3 separate regions of the Homo sapiens genome follow, and regions 2 and 3 are each linked to region 1. Evidence: fine-mapped expression QTL. A gene starts in region 1. Each other region holds a variant in brackets. All regions are shown on one strand. Distances are between the middles of the regions.

Region 1 (5,000 bases):
GTGGAGGGGGGGCCACGGTAGTTCAATCGTGGGGAAGAAAATGTTGAGGAATTAGATGATAAAGCCTGTTTGCAACAGTGAATTTTTAATCGTCAAAACTGAAGGATCTCAAAGAATTTTAATATGTACTTCCCCCACCCTGCTACCGTCAGAAGGAAAAGTTGTCATCATAACTGTTTTCTAAAGACAGAGATGAAAGGAACTGCTCAATTTCACAACTTGTAATTATTAGAGGGAAAAGTACTTAATGTTGAAAATATTAAGTGAACATTGAGAAGGAATATGAGACAAAGATCAGCACATCATTTTGGCTAGGAGAGAAAAAGAGCTAAAGGGAAAGAATGGTGCCTAAGCTAATTCATTCATTTTATGTGTTTCTTTATGATAAAGTTTAAGAAATTTTTTTCTAAAATACTTTACCTTCCTGAAACCACCAGAGTTCCATCATCGAGTAAATAATCCTTCACATTCTGAGGAAGTGGAAGAATGACACTAAAAAAAAAACACCAAAAAAGGCATCATTTTAAAAGACCAACTATAAGCAGAGAGAAAAATCTCTACACTTGATTAATTTTGGAATTGTCTTTCTTTTAATATAAAGTAGAAAATGTTAATGATGTACATTTGGTAGCAGTAGACAAGAAATCAGAATAATAAGATTACTGCGGTTCATCTTATTGCCACAATGGTCTTTGTAGTAAACAAAAACCAGCCAAATCCAAACCACCAGATGGAAATCACAGTATGAAAGCAACAAGCTCAAAAGGATTCTGAGTGAGCACAACATTTATGTGTCTTTAAGAAATCAGAGACCAGCAGATATTTGCTGCAACACAGGAAATGCAGCAAACCCAACTAGAAGATGACTAGCATTTGGTCACCTTCTAAAGATAGAGGGCAGAAGTAGAGTCAAGATCTGGAAACCATTCTTGGGTTGGCAGTGAGCACCTACCGCTAAGAATTCATGATACTTTTGGATGTGTCTTGCTGGCTTTCTATTCAACTGATCACCAGAGATATAAAGCTGCTTAAACTAGGCATGCTTTAGCTTAATTTGTTTCAGGTAATCATAATTAAGGATGGCAAAGCCATACCTGAAGTCTCTTAAAAACTTATGGGATAATTTGTTTTTTACCTTGAAATAATAAATTATCAAAAAGCCCTACCACAGATCCCTAAGAGTGCTGGTATTATTTTGATTTTGAGGCATATACATCTTCAAAAAGTGGAAAAGATTACAGCCTGCTTTCCCGAAGTTAACAGAACATCAATGACTTATAACATGTCTCATTTATTTATGGAAGAAGTTTTTTTTGGCACATTACAAATGGTTTTTTTGCACAAAAAAGAGTATTCATGGGCTACTTCGGTTTTAAAAATAAGTATTTTTATTTATTTTTAAATAAATAAAAGATCACTGCCACTGCACTCCAGCTTGGGCGACAGAGCAAAAACTTCGGTTTTAAAAATAAATATTTGATTTATCAAAGGTACAATTTCACATTCAAAAATCTAGTTCTGGCCGGGCGCGGTGGCTCACACCTGTAATCCCAGCACTTTGGGAGGCCGAGGCGGGCGGATCACGAGGTCAGGCAATCGAGACCATCCTGGCTAACACGGTGAAAACCCCGCCTCTACTAAAAATACAAAAAATTAGCCGGGGGTGGTGGCGGGCGCCTGTAGTCCCAGCTACTCAGGAAGCTGAGGCAGGAGAATGGCGTGAACTCGGGAAGGGAAGCTTGCAGTGAGCCAAGATCGCTGCCACTGCACTCCAGCTTGGGCGACAGAACAAAACTCTGTCTCAAAAAAAAAAAATCTAGTTCTTCAGGCTTTTAATTTCTTCTAACAAATCTTATTACGTTTGAAAATCTACTAAATTTTAAACAATTTCAAGCGAAACTTTGCAACTTAAAAGTCTCTTTAAAATTTTAAATTCTATTCATAAACCACTCAATTTTCTTTCTTAATATGTCTATTTGCTGATTACAAATAAGCCTTCCTAAGTATTTTACTCTTACAAAGCTAACAAGCGAAATTGTTAAGTACAATGAATCTAAGGTTCTACCACACATTCCAATACTATTTAAGAACTTGAAACTTTTCTTATACATTTTAACCATTCTAAGCCAGTTACACATTTTCAAGTACATATCCGATCTTTATTGAATGAAACCATCATATAATGAATCAGCAATTACTGAAATGTTGGCTCAGAAAATCAGTTAAGTGCAAAGCCCAGATTTTCTATCAACGCCTTTAAAAAAACTGAGAGATGAAATTGTATATATTAATACTTGCCGCCTACCTGATGTTTTTAAGTATATATACACTGTGGAATAAATTTAGCTAACAAATGCATTGCCTAACATAGTTATTTTTGTGGTGAGAACACTAACATCCACTCTCCGTTTTTCAAGAATACGTATATCGTCATTAACTATAGCCTCCATGCTGTACGACATATCTGTGAACTTGTTCTCGTATCTAACTGTAATTACGTATCCTTTCACCTTCCCAATCTCCATCCTCTGGGGTGATGGCGAAAAGCAATTAATTCTCCGAGTGCACTTAGGCAGTGATCACCTTGCGCCTGGGGCCATTCTAAAAGTAGTGGTGGTGAACTCCCAAGCCTAAACTAGGTTAATCCACTATTCCTCCCGCCTCCGACCCTCACTGAAAACCACAACTGACCCTCCTAGCCAGCACACTCGCTGGCTCGCAACAGGACGCAGACAATTGCTGATGTACTTCCCTCTCGACACACTCCCTCCCATGCAGTCGCTAGAAGGCCTGCATTTTTTTGGATAGCAGTAAGATTCGCTCAGAAGTCGCAGTTCCCTTTTGCCGGTCGACCGGGCGAACCCCCTCCCATCTCACCTCTTGATGGTAACGCCTCGGAAGAACGGGTACCACGCGGAGAACTGGCAGTGAAGCACATGCTCCTTCTTCATCCTCCAGCTGCCGCCGCTGCTGCCTTTCCCTCTCCTGCCTGCACCCTCCCGGAACTCTGGGCGCCGGCCCCGGAAGTGCCCGCCGAGCTATTTTGGTTCAAGGACTCTTCCGGTCCCTAAAGCAAGAAGGAAGACCGAGAAAAGGAAGCGGAGGAGAATCCCGGGGCATACGCTTGACACACACGCATACAAAAAGAGCTTTAGTCTCGAAAGAGGAATTACCGAAGTGTCGAGAGAGGAATTTTAAGAAGTTTACAACTCCGTCTTCGCCCTAAACGCACGCTGACCCGGAAAGTAATCTCCTGAAGCTAGGTCAAAGGCGGGGGTTCTACGGATGCCGGAAGGAGGGTGCGCGCCCATCCTTTTAGCACCGCGAGAGGCGCCGGTGTTTCGAGCCGTGGCACCGGCATCGGCTGACACTGCTGCCTCCAGCTAGTTATTTCGTCCTCTTCCGTTCTTCACCCCTACACCTTGGAGTAAGTAACCGGGGCAAGCCAGTCACAGCACAAAACCTCTTTGGGGAGGAGAAGAAGAAGGGGAAAGGGACCACATCTGCATGGTGCGTGCAGCCGCGCGGTGTCTCCCAGGCTGCGGCTGGGCACGCGTCCAGGCGCCCAAGAGGGAAACTGGGGATTGGAGGGAAATTGTGGATTGGAGAGGAAGAGCCTGGGCTACTCCGAGTAAAGAAAGCGGGGAACACCACAGCTAAGTGTTAGTTCCAGTGTAAAGATTGCAGCATCTGCAGAGGAGTAGAATGCTTGGTAGAGGGAATACCGCCTGTACGATCCTGGAGGGTTCGACTTTGGGAGGTAAAAGGCGAGAGGTAAATGTGAGAAAGCAGAGGAAAGAGGAGTCTCCTTGGAGCGCTGAATTCGTTTAGTCTGGCCTCGCAAAAGTTGTCAACCTGGAAAAAACGCAGATTTTTATCAGTATTCCTGCGATGATCGAATCATAAGACTGGAAGAATTCGAATCGAACTTGTACTATCGTTTTTTCCTTTGCTTCACTCCTGTCACCCAGCAAAGTTCAGTTTTGTTTGTTTCGTTAAAAGAATGAGAAGTAACTAGCTGCTTTTATTTATTTATTTGAGACGGAGTCTCACTCTGTGCCCAGATTGGAGTGCAGTGGCGCAATCTTGGCTCACTGCAACCTCCGCCTCCTGGGTTTAAGTGATTCTCCTGCCTTAGCTTCTCGAGTAGCTGAGAGCGCGCGCGCGCCACTACGCCGGCTAATTTTTGTGTTTTTAGTAGAGACGGCGTTTCACCATATTTGCCAGGCTGGTCTCGAACTCCTAACCTTAGGTGATCTGCCCGCCTCAGCCTCCCAAAGTGCTGGGTTTACAAGGCGTGAGCCACGGCCCCGGGCCTACCAACCAGCCGCTTTTAACCCCTAGTCGTGTCGCTTACCACACGAGCTTTAGGCTTGCGCGAGGCATCTGCGTCTAAAAGTATCTCCTTAAATGTACATTCTTCCTGGTTCACCTAAGTAGTTTTAAATTAGAAACAGCCCCACCGACTGCAGGCCTCTTCAGAAGGGTGTTCCTTAGAATAATAAACAATTATCTGCGTATTTTGAGTTAGAAACTCTTCCCCCCAGGAATATATACATTGTTTTGGGTTGTGTTTTGTTTTTCTCAAAAATGTTACTGGCTAAGTGGCTAGTTGGAAGCAGTGCTTTAAAGAATACATTTTCAAAGCAGAGGTAAATAGATTATAATGTTGCAGAGTATGTTGGTGGGGATGGACAGTCATGATTCATCATTTATGCCTTGATCCGGAACTATGCAGTCCTTTCTGATTTGAGGGAAAGAAGCAATATTGTATATATGTCTGGAGGGTGGTGCCAGAAAGACTTAATGGCAGACAGGAGCAGTCGCTCAAATAATTGTTTTGATTTGACTTAGAAAGTAAAAAATTGCGCGGAAGGAGATGTTAGCATCGATGGGGGATTTATTTAGGTCAGATGTTTTCTAATGAAGATAGGAATGAATGTACGGAAGAGAATAGATCCCGGGAACATAGCCCTTCTGCGAGGAGCAGTACTTTAACA
Region 2 (5,000 bases), 46 kb before region 1:
ATGCGCCAGTATGCTTGGCTAATTTTTGCATTTTTACTAGAGACAGGGTCTTACCATGTTGGCCAGGCTGGTCTCGAACTCCTAACCTCAAATGTCCTCCCACCTTGGCCTCCCCATGAGCCACCGTGCCCAGCCTGAAGATGCTGTTTTCTTTCTATGTGAATGTGGTAAGTGTTCCGTCTGTACAATAGAGCTTGACAGCATATGAAGGGGACGTAAAAAAAAAAAAAAAAGAAAAAAGAAAAAAAAAAAACCACCCCAACCTCTGAAAGAAATGTCTACCTTGTCCTGTTCTGAAACCACAGGTGGGCAATTTGGTGACTCTCCTCAGGGAAAGGTCACCTTTGAGCTGGGGGCACTGTGCTGAGGTAGGGCTGGGGCCTCTGAGCAGAAAACAGCCAGTGCTGACACGCACAGAGCGGGGGCACAGGGGCTGCGCCGCCAGGAATGACGGCCACGGCATCCGATCACGAACACCTATTGACACGAAGTGGATGGATGTTTCCTCGAAAGGTTTATCTTTGCTCCTTTTCACTTTTCTCACTGAAACATTCATATATTTGTGCCATCTGGTTAATAATGAATTTGTTTTTTTCTATAAATGTGTTGCCGCCATGTCCTGAGCGGGTGTGTGTCTGTGAAATTCCAAGCAACAAGACCGCTGAGCCAGCATGCCTAATATCTGGCACTGTTTCTCAGCTGAGCGAGAGCAAACTGTTAAGAAAGATGCAACATCTAATTAGGACTTGCTTCAAATACCAGAACCTCCAGTTAAGTGGCACAGGCCTGTCGCAGGATGTTTTCGCAGGATGTTTTCAGCACAACCCATTTAGGTAAGTTCCTCATTTTATACAAGCCCCAGGAGAGGCCCTGCAAATTTCTCACCGCTTGAGTTGTTTCCTCACCTCCATTTGGCACCCACTTCTTCATTCCTGGAACTATGTGAAACAGTATCAGCCGTCAAACAACTTCTTGGTAATGATGTCAACTTTATTTTGGAGAATACTGCTAAGATGTCTTCAATATATGTCATGATACAAAATGGACATTTTCTAACCTCCAAATCTTTTCTACTTGACTTTCTTTTTTTTTTTTTTTGAGATGGAGTCTCGCTCTGTCACTCAGGCTGGAGTGCAGTGGTGCGATCTCTGCTCACTACAACCTCCGCCTCCCGAGTTCAAGTGATTCTCCTGCCTCAGCCTCCCAAGTAGCTGGGACTACAGGCGTCCGCCATCACGCCCAGCTAATTTTTTGTATTTTTAGTAGAGACAGGGTTTCACTGTGTCAGGATGGTCTCGATCTCCTGACCTCGTGATCTGCCTGCCTCAGCCTCCCAAAGTGTTGGGATTACAGGCGTGACCCTCTGTGCCCAGCCTCTACTTGGCTTTTTATAGTCAGTAAAACTAACTCATTTTTTTTTAAACAATCACACTTTTAATATAGGAATATGCCACAATGCAAAAAACCAAACCACATTTTTTCCTTTTTTTTTTTTCACTCTTGTTGCCCAGGCAGGAGTGCAATGGTGAGATCTCGGCTCACTGCAACTTCCCCTTCCTGGGTTCATGCAATTCTCCTGCCTCCACCTCCTAAGTAGCTGGGACTACAGGTATGCACCACCACGCCTGGCTAATTTTCTATTTTTGGTAGAGATGGGGTGTCACCATGTTGGTCAGGCTGGTCTCCAATTCTTAAACTCAGGTGATCTGCCCGCCTAGGCCTCCCAAAGTGCTGAGATTACAGGCGTGAGCCACTGTACCCAGCCCAAAACACATTTTTAAATGAAAACAAACCACCACTGTTAATTGGTAGTGTACTCTGTAGCTCAGAAGCTATCCTCTAGTACAAAAAAAAAGAGTTTAAGTAAATTAAAAAAAACCCAGCTGTAACTTCTATAAACTAGGAGGATCAGGATCAGGATTTTATAACTTTTTTTTTTTGAGACAGAGTCTCGCCCTGTTGCCCAGGCTGGAGTACAGTCGCGCGATCTCAGCTCATTGCAACCTCCTCCTCCTGGGCTCAAGTGGTTCTCCTGCCTCAGCCTCCCAAGTAGCTGGGATTACAGGCGCCTGCCACTGTGCCTGACTAACTTTTGTATTTTTAGTAGAGACGGGGTTTCACCATGTTGGCCAGGCTGGTCTTGAGCTCCTGATCTCAGGTGACCTGCCTGCCTCAGCCTCCTAAAGTGCTGAGATTACAGGTGTGAGCCACCACGCCCGGCCATAACATGTTTTCATGTGACATCTCAAGCACAAACAGCCTGAGAAGTTAATTCTGCTTTGAGGCAATCCAATAAGCAAAGAGCAGTCGGACTAACTGTCCTTGTACCAGCTGACTGTCTCCCTGCCCCGATCAAGCTCTAGGGACCAGACACTGTGTTAGGCACTGGGCATGAAGATCGTAACACAAAATCGACTCCTTCCAAGAGCTCAGGCTTGAGCAGAACACACATCTCCACTTCCCCAAAACAGAACCAAAAGCCATCCAACAATGGCAATGTGCAGGGTATTTTGCTTCAAGAGAGGCAAGAACAGGGAACTGTGAGAGCGGAGAGGCACACAGGAGAGCCTGCCTACATGTGCGAGGGAAGGCTGGAAATGCTTCCCAAAGGACCTGGGCACCTGAGGGATAACAGAGATGCCCTGGGAGGAGGGTGGTGTTGGCAGGAAAAGCGGACCACTTAACAAGAACGACGGCTCTCACGTACAGAGGCCACGCCACGACCGCCTGTTGCGGGAATAGGTTATTTTGGCTGGAGTGTGAGATATGTGAGGGCTCCTGAAATACAGCCAGCTATGTAACTCTCAAGGCTTGCTGTTCCAAACAGGATGAAACACATGCTACGACAAGCCGTTTAAAAGTGTAATTGAGATTATGAGAAAGACCGGGAAATCCCCCGGGGCCAGAAACAAGAA[C/GAAC]CCGAAGAACAGAACTAAGCCTATCAACTCTAGTGCTGTGGGAACCCGTGGGAGGGTCTCCTAGCAGCCTGGCCACAGGAAGGGAATCAGAACTCAGACACAAACTCCAGAAGGCGACAGTCTCAGGAAAGGGAGTGTGAGGAGACAGTTCTAATGACAGGGCAGGACACAATGACTGTTCTTCTCTGAATGAGTTTTGAGGAACATGGTAGAAGCAAATGAAAAACCCAAAATTTTGGATCTTTGGGATTCTCACAAACAAAAGAACAAACAAAAAGAACAAGCTCACTGAAGATGAACTCAAAGTAAATAAATAAACTGATTTACAAAACAAAAAAGAAACAACCAACCCGGATGAGAGTCTGTAAACGCAACAGGCATTAAAGCCCCAAGAACTCTGGAAATCATCATCAATCTGAAGGACAGTATAAAATAAATATATTGATGCTAGACAAAAAGACTAAGGGGGATCCATATCGCATACCAAACACGCAAAGGAACAAAAGCCAAACATCCAATATTGAAATGGAGAACAAGAAGTTACAAAAGAACTGGACAAAAACCATGGGGAAGTATTTTTTAAAATGATGGCTGAAATTCAAAAGCCAGAAAAGAAACAAATAATCTATGTGATCTCGTTCACAGGAAAAGACTAATGACAAAGGCCTAATCTCTGTAATACATAAACAGTGCCTCTATTTTGAGGAAAATGAGACAATAGAAAAAAGTGAAAAAGACATGAAGCAATGGTTCACAGAAACGACCCTTAAATATATGAAAAGATAAACTTCATCCTCACTTACTAAGAAAAATAGAAGTAGAAATTATACTGAAACATCATTTCTCTACGAAACCCCAAAAACCCTGAAGAGTGTAACCCTATATTGTAAAGGCAAGCTCTGAGGAAGCCTGCAGGTACTGTGATGCATTCCTGGGGGGATCTGGTCAGGTGTAACCTCTACCGAGGGTAAACTGCAACATTAAAATACATTTCACTTTTGAGCCAGCAATCCCGCTTCTAGGAATTCACCCTGTAGATTCACCTGCAGCGTGTGAAATGACACACGTACGGGATTATTCACCATGGCAGACTGCAGAAGACCAGACACAACCTGGTGTTCACTGCTAGGCATGACATGTATGATCATGGCTCACTGCAGCCTCAACCTCCCAGTCTCAAGCGATCCTCCCAACTCAGCTCCCGGGAGTAGCTGGGGCTACAGGCACAAACCACCACACCTGGCTAATTTTTATGTAGAGACGAGGTCTCATTATGTTAAGCCCAGGCTGATCTCAAACTCCTGGGCTCAAGCCATCCTCCCACCTCAGCCTCCCAAAATGCTGAAAATACAGGCGTGAGCCACAACAATGGCCTAAAGCCCCTCTTTCTAGTAACTCTTAACAGACACCATCATCTTTGAAGACAAAGAGGTGAAAATATAGTGATGTCTTTTGACGTAAGAGTTAAATGAACAGTTAACAGTTATTCTGGGACATGATCATATGGGCCATATCTTTTTGTCCAAAGATGATTCGAAGATGTCCAAAGGTGATTCAGATTCAAATGACTGTCTCACTTACAATGAGGCTGATCTAAGCACGGAGAGAGAATGAGAAATATTCTGCTTGTGTGTAGGTGACACGGGAAAACGCATCTGCTAGCTTCTTCACAATGTCAAAGAGCACTCAGCACCAAACAGCATTTAGTGACCTAAACTTCTTAATAAAGATGACATGTCTTGGACAGTGAAATCTCTGCTCTAGTAATTCTTCATTAAGTCAGCAGTAAGTAACTTTACTAGTAAGTCACTTTAACTTTTTCCTTACAGAAGTTTTCATCACTTTTAAGATTTAAAAAATAAACTAATCCTCTTCTGTCTAAAGATAAAAGTAACTCAAACTTTGAGTCACTTTTAGTTGACTAAAAATAATAATAATAATTTTTTTTTTTTTTTTTTTGAGACGGAGTCTCGCTCTGTAGCCCAGGCTGGAGTGCAGTGGCGCGATCTCGGCTCACTGCAAGCTCCGCCTCCCGGGTTCACGCCATTCTCCCGCCTCAGCCTCCAGAGTAGCTGGGACTACAAG
Region 3 (5,428 bases), 63 kb before region 1:
TGGCTCATGCCTGTAATCCCAGCACTTTAGGAGGCTGAGGCGGGTAGATCACTTGAGGTCAGGAGTTTGAGACCAGCCTGACCAACATGGAAACCCCTTCTCTACTAAAAACACACACAAAAAATTAGCTGGGCGTGGTGGTGCACACCACCATGCCCGGCTAATTTTTGTATTTTTAGCAGAGATGGGTTTTCACTATGTTGGCCACACTGGTCTCAAACTCCCGACCTCAAGTGATCTGCCCGCCTCGGCCTCCCAAAGTGCTGGGATTACAGGCGTGAGCCACTGCTCCCAGCCTGTCCCATATTTTGAGCTATGCTCACCCCTGGCTTCCAGAGAGCTGAGGTCAGAAACCTTCCTGACACTCAAAGTCACTTTCAGGCTCCCCCATTATTTTCCTGAGAGTTTATTGTGACACCTCATGATCATCTAACATAGTTTGGATGTTTGTAGCTGAAGTCTCAGCTACTCAAGAGGCTGAGGTGGAAGAATCACTTGAATCCGGGAGGTGGAGGCTGCAGTGAGCCAAGATTGTGCCACTGCACTCCAGCAGCCTGGGCAACAGAGCGAGACTCTGTTTCAGACAAATAAATAAATAAAAAAGATGAGACAGAGAAGCCTCAGACAGCAGCATGAATCAGGTGAGAGACGGAGGTGGGATGTGGCTGGCGGGCTGGAGAAAAGTGAAATCAAAGGCCATGTAGTGGCCGGGTACGGTGGCTCACACCTGTAATCCCAGCACTTTGGGAGGCCCAGGCAGGAGGATCGCTTGATCCCAGGAGGTCAGGGCTTCAAGGATTCTAAGCATAATCTATTGGTTAGAATCAAGTCATAGTTTTCACCTGCACTCCAGGGAAGAGGTTATACAAGGGCTCATTGGTAGTCACCTTGAGGGTGTCTGCGACAAGTTTATTATCATACTATCATTCTAGAAAAGCTCCTATATCCCAATTCAGACTGAAATTTTAAAAATCTCTTTATAAAGAGCAGCAGTTCCATCCACCTGATCATTTTGTGCCTTTATCTTGCAGGACAGACTCAGGTTTTGGGGTGTCTAAAGCTCTCACATGTGAAATGCCCTCTTAAAACCACAGTCTGGCTGGGCACGGTGGCTCACACCTGTAATCCCAGCACTTGGGGAGGCTGAGGAGGGCAGAGTTGCCTGAGGCCAGGGGTTCGAGATCAGCTTGGCCAACATGATGAAACCCCATCTCTGCTAAAAATACAAAAACTAGCTGGCTGTGGTGGTACACACCTGTAGTCCCAGCTACTCGGGAGGCTGAGGCACAAGAATTGCTTGAACCCAGGAGGCAGAGATTGCAGTGAGCCGAGATCATGCCACTGCACTTCAGCCTGGCAACAGAGCAAGACTCTGTCTGAAAACAATAAAACAAAAAAACAAAAAACCCTAGTCTGCCAGGTATAGGTGTTCCTCTGCTGTGCTCTATGCATGGGCATGGGTTTGTGTGTTTCTAATATCCTTTGTAAAGATGCATTTGGCATTTAGCAGTGCATCAGGCTAGTATTGCCTGGGAGGGCAATTTACAGGGGTTTCTGATCCTGTTAACGAATGGCATCTGCTAGCTCAGAGCTCATAAGGATGATTTCGATTACTTTCCCTAAACTTATAATTTTAATTTTCCTACACCTTTACTTCATGTGTTAGTTTGCTGGGGCTGTCATAACCAAATACAACAGACAGGGTTTTAAGGGTGGCTTAAACAACATGATTTATTGTCTCACAGTTCTGGAGGCTGGAAGTCCAAGATCAGGGTGTCGGCAGGGTGCATTTCTGAGGTCTCTCTCCACAGTGTGCAGATGGCCACCCTCTTGCTGTGTCCTGGATGTGGCCTTTCCTCTGCGCTTGGGCATCCCTGGTGTCTTTGTGTCCAGATTTCCTCTTCT[G/T]ATAAGAACACCCTCATATTGGATTAGGACCCACTTCGAAGGCCTCATTTTAGCTTCATCACCTCTGTAAAGGGCCTGTCTCCAAACACAGTCAGATTCTCAGGTATGAAGGTTATAGGACTTCAACATATGAACTTTGTGGGGACAATTTCCTCTCTCCTGCCCGCTCGCAGTGACTTGGAATACTCTTGAGGGTGTCTCCATCTATTTTGTATTATATTTCATTATCTGGAAAAGCTTATTAATCTAAGCATTTTGTTCCTGCCTCAGGAGCTTGTCATATAAACAAACACCTAGACAACTAGCAATTAATACAATAAAGCAGGTAACGAGCTGCTGGTTTGATAATGTGGACTGTAGCTCTCTAGAAGCTCAAAGAAGGAGGACAAAGGTATAGTGGCTACATTGATCTGGGAGGGCCTTAGGAGCAGGAGGGGTTAACAGATGCTCACATAAGGCCTAATATTTAAATAGGGGTTCTAAACCTTAGCAGTACATTAGAATTATTTGGGGGATGTTTAAAACTACTGGGCCTTGGCTGGACGCGGTGGCTCACGCCTGTAATTCCAGCACTTTGGGAGGCCAAGGCAGGCGGATCACCTGAGGTCACGAGTTGGAGACCAGTCTGACCAACATGGGGAAACCCCGTCTCTACTGAAAAATACAAAATTTAGCCGGGTATGGTGGCACATGTCTGTAATCCCAGCTACTCAGGAGGCTGAGGCAGGAGAATTGCTTGAACCCGGGAGGCAGAGGTTGTGAAGAGCCGAGATTGCACCATTGCACTCTAGCCTGGGAAACAAGAGTGAAACTCTGTCTCAAAACAAACAAACAAACATAAACAACAAACTACTGGGCCCAGCTGGTGGCTCATGCCTGTAATCCCAGCACTTTGGGAGGCCGAGGCAGGCAGATCACCTGAGGTCAGGAGTTTGAGACCAGCCTGGCCAACCACTGCCAACATGGTGAAACTCCATCTCTACTAAAAATACAAAAATTAGCCGGGTGTGGTGGCAGGCACCCATAATCCCAGATACTCAGGAGGCTGAGGCAGGAGAATCACTTGAACCCGGGAGGCAGAGGTTGCAGTGAGCAGAGATCATACCACTATGCTCCAGCCTGGGCAACAGAGGGGAGACTCCCTCTCAAAAGCAAAAGACAAAAACAAAAACAAGAACAAACTACTGGGCCCCAGAGATTTCAGTTTAATTGGTCTGGATGAGTATTCTCCATTGATTAAGAAAAAAATACTCTCCAGGTAATTAGAATACACAACTAGGGGCCGGGTGCAGTGGCTCATGCCTGTAATCTCAGCACTTTGAGAGGCCAAGGTGGGAGGATCCTTAGGTCAGGAGTTTGAGACCAGCCTGGGCAACATAGCAAGACCCCCCCCCCACCCCACCCAATGCACATACCTGTTTCTATGTGGAAAAAAAAAAAAAAGAAAGAAAAAGAAAAAGAGTATATGGCCGGGTGCTGTGGCTCAAGCCTGTAATCCCAGCACTTTGGGAGGCCAAGGCAGGTGGATAACGAGGTCAGGAGATCGAGACCATCCTGGCTAACACAGTGAAACCCCGTCTCTACTAAAAATACAAAAAATTAGCCGGGTGTGGTGGCGGGCGCCTGTAGTCCCAGCTACTTGGGAGGCTGAGGCAGGAGAATGACGTGAACCTGGGAGGCGGAGCTTGCAGTGAGCCAAGATCGCGCTACTGCACTCCAGCCTGGGAGACAGAGCAAGACTCCGTCTAAAAAAAAAAAAAGAAAAGAAAAAGAATATACGACTAAGACTGAGAATCTCTGGCCTAAATGAACAGATGAGCTTAAGGAGGGCATTCATATTCCAGGTGAGCAGGAAGCTTCGAGGGGAGGCAGCAAGCAGGAATGCCGCGGATATTGAAAGAACATGGAGAAGGCAGACTTGCTGGGAGCTGAGGATGTTTTAAGGGTCGTGGAAAATAAGTTTACACAGATCAGAGTGAAATTACATGGGGTATATGGAATCTATATCAAACAAGAAAGGCAGGAGGAAGATAGAAGCAGGTTTGCAAGCCCAACTGGTTGGTTATTACAGACAGACAGATGTGAGGTCCTGAGGGTACTGGATGGAGATGCAGAAAGGATCATAGAGAACACTGGGAAGGGTCCCGGCGTTGTGGATCATGCTTGTAATCCCAGCACTTTGGGAAGCTGAGGCAGGAGGATCTGCTGGAGCTCAGGAGTTCAAGACCAGCCTGGGCAACATGGCAAGACCTTGTTTCTGCTAAAAATAAAAATAAATTAGCCAGGCGTGGTGGTGTATTCCCGTAGTCCCAGCTATTCAGGAGGCTGAGGTGGGAAGATAGCTTGAGCCTCGGAAATTGAGGCTGCAATGAGTCATAATCATGCCACTGCACTCTAGCCTGGGAGACAAAAAAATAATTTTAATTTTTTTTTTTTTGAGATGGAGTTCCACTCTTGTTGCCCAGGCTAGAGTGCAATGGTGCAATCTCGGCTCACTGCAACCTCTGCCTCCCAGGTTCAAGCAATTCTCCTGCCTCAGCCTTCCGAGTAGCTGGGATTACAGGCACCCGCTGCCACACATGGCTAATTTTTGTATTTTTAGTAGAAATGGGGTTTCACCATGATGGCCAGGCTGGTCTCAAACTCCTGACCTCAGGTGATCCACCCGCCTTGGCCTCCCAAAGTGCTGGAATTACAAGCGTGAGCCATGGCACCCAGCCGGATACTGAATCTTGAGCCCAGTGTCATCAGGACAGAAGGCAGAATCTCTCTAGTAGCTAAGTCCTGGGATAGTGTCTTTTGCGTCTCCAAAGTTTTCCCAGTCTCCGTTCTCTCTGTGGAGCTTACACACTTTGCGCCAATTTCCTGAGGCACCTCACATCCTTCCAGTACATGCTTTCATTAACTAGAGTTAGTTTCTGTTGTTTGCAACCAAAACTGCTTAACTGATTGACCATACTTCTTCCCATTATTCGAGTTTTGGGGGAGCATTATTTTGCATTCAAAATCCAGAAGTGAGCAAATCATACCCTGGGATCTTTGTCTCTCCTTTCTTAAGACTCATTCGGGCCTAGCGCGGTGGTTTATGCCTATAATCTCAGCACTTTGGGAGGCGAAACCCCGTTTCTACTAAAAATACGAAAATTAGCCGGGCGTGGTGGCGGGTGCCTGTAATCTCAGCTACCAGGGAGGCTGAGATGGGAGACTTGCTTGAACCTGGGAGGCGGAGATTGCAGTGAGCCAAGATTGTGCCATTTCACCCCAGCCTGGGCTACGAGAGCAAGACTCCATCCCCCCTTCCCCCCTGCTGGCCAGAAAAAAAGATTGATTTGGACATTCTCATTTTGATTTCAAAAAAGACAAGTCTGTGGCCACCAAGGGTGATGAGAGGTGGCCATATGATGTCCTTTTCACTCCTCATACCTATAAACTCATTGAGAGGTACCAGTGACCTTTCTGCACGGACTGTCTTTTAAATTGTCTGTTTACAATGCTGTATCCATTTATACTCCATTTATTTCCC

Alleles and levels. Positions count from the first base shown, and alleles are read on the strand shown. Sizes are in standard deviations (SD) of each study's normalised expression. Not every link is listed here.
In carriers of allele C in region 2, the expression in sun-exposed skin of the gene that starts at base 3,009 in region 1 tends to be lower than with GAAC alone (small effect, 0.21 SD a copy in GTEx).

The links. PIP is the estimated chance that this variant, and not a neighbour inherited with it, causes the effect.
Region 2: its variant is the best candidate, but not a certain one, in a credible set for the expression of CDC123 in sun-exposed skin (GTEx, PIP 0.75).
Region 3: its variant is the best candidate, but not a certain one, in a credible set for the expression of CDC123 in whole blood (INTERVAL, PIP 0.50).

What each region holds. Positions count from the first base shown.
Region 1 is chr10:12,194,197-12,199,196 of GRCh38, reverse strand. CDC123 (cell division cycle 123) reads right to left here and starts at 3,009. Exons shown (of 13, transcript NM_006023.3): 1 at 2,878-3,009; 2 at 421-492. The coding sequence starts at 2,951. NUDT5 (nudix hydrolase 5) reads left to right here and starts at 3,306. Exons shown (of 10, transcript NM_014142.4): 1 at 3,306-3,427. RefSeq lists an enhancer at 2,993-3,262.
Region 2 is chr10:12,239,882-12,244,881 of GRCh38, reverse strand. All of the region lies in intron 10 of CDC123 (cell division cycle 123), which reads right to left. Among named protein-coding and RNA genes, the nearest start is that of CDC123, 46 kb to the right of the region's middle. The variant C/GAAC (reference allele first, on the strand shown) is at 2,916.
Region 3 is chr10:12,256,539-12,261,966 of GRCh38, reverse strand. No RefSeq gene overlaps it. Among named protein-coding and RNA genes, the nearest start is that of CDC123, 63 kb to the right of the region's middle. The variant G/T (reference allele first, on the strand shown) is at 1,906.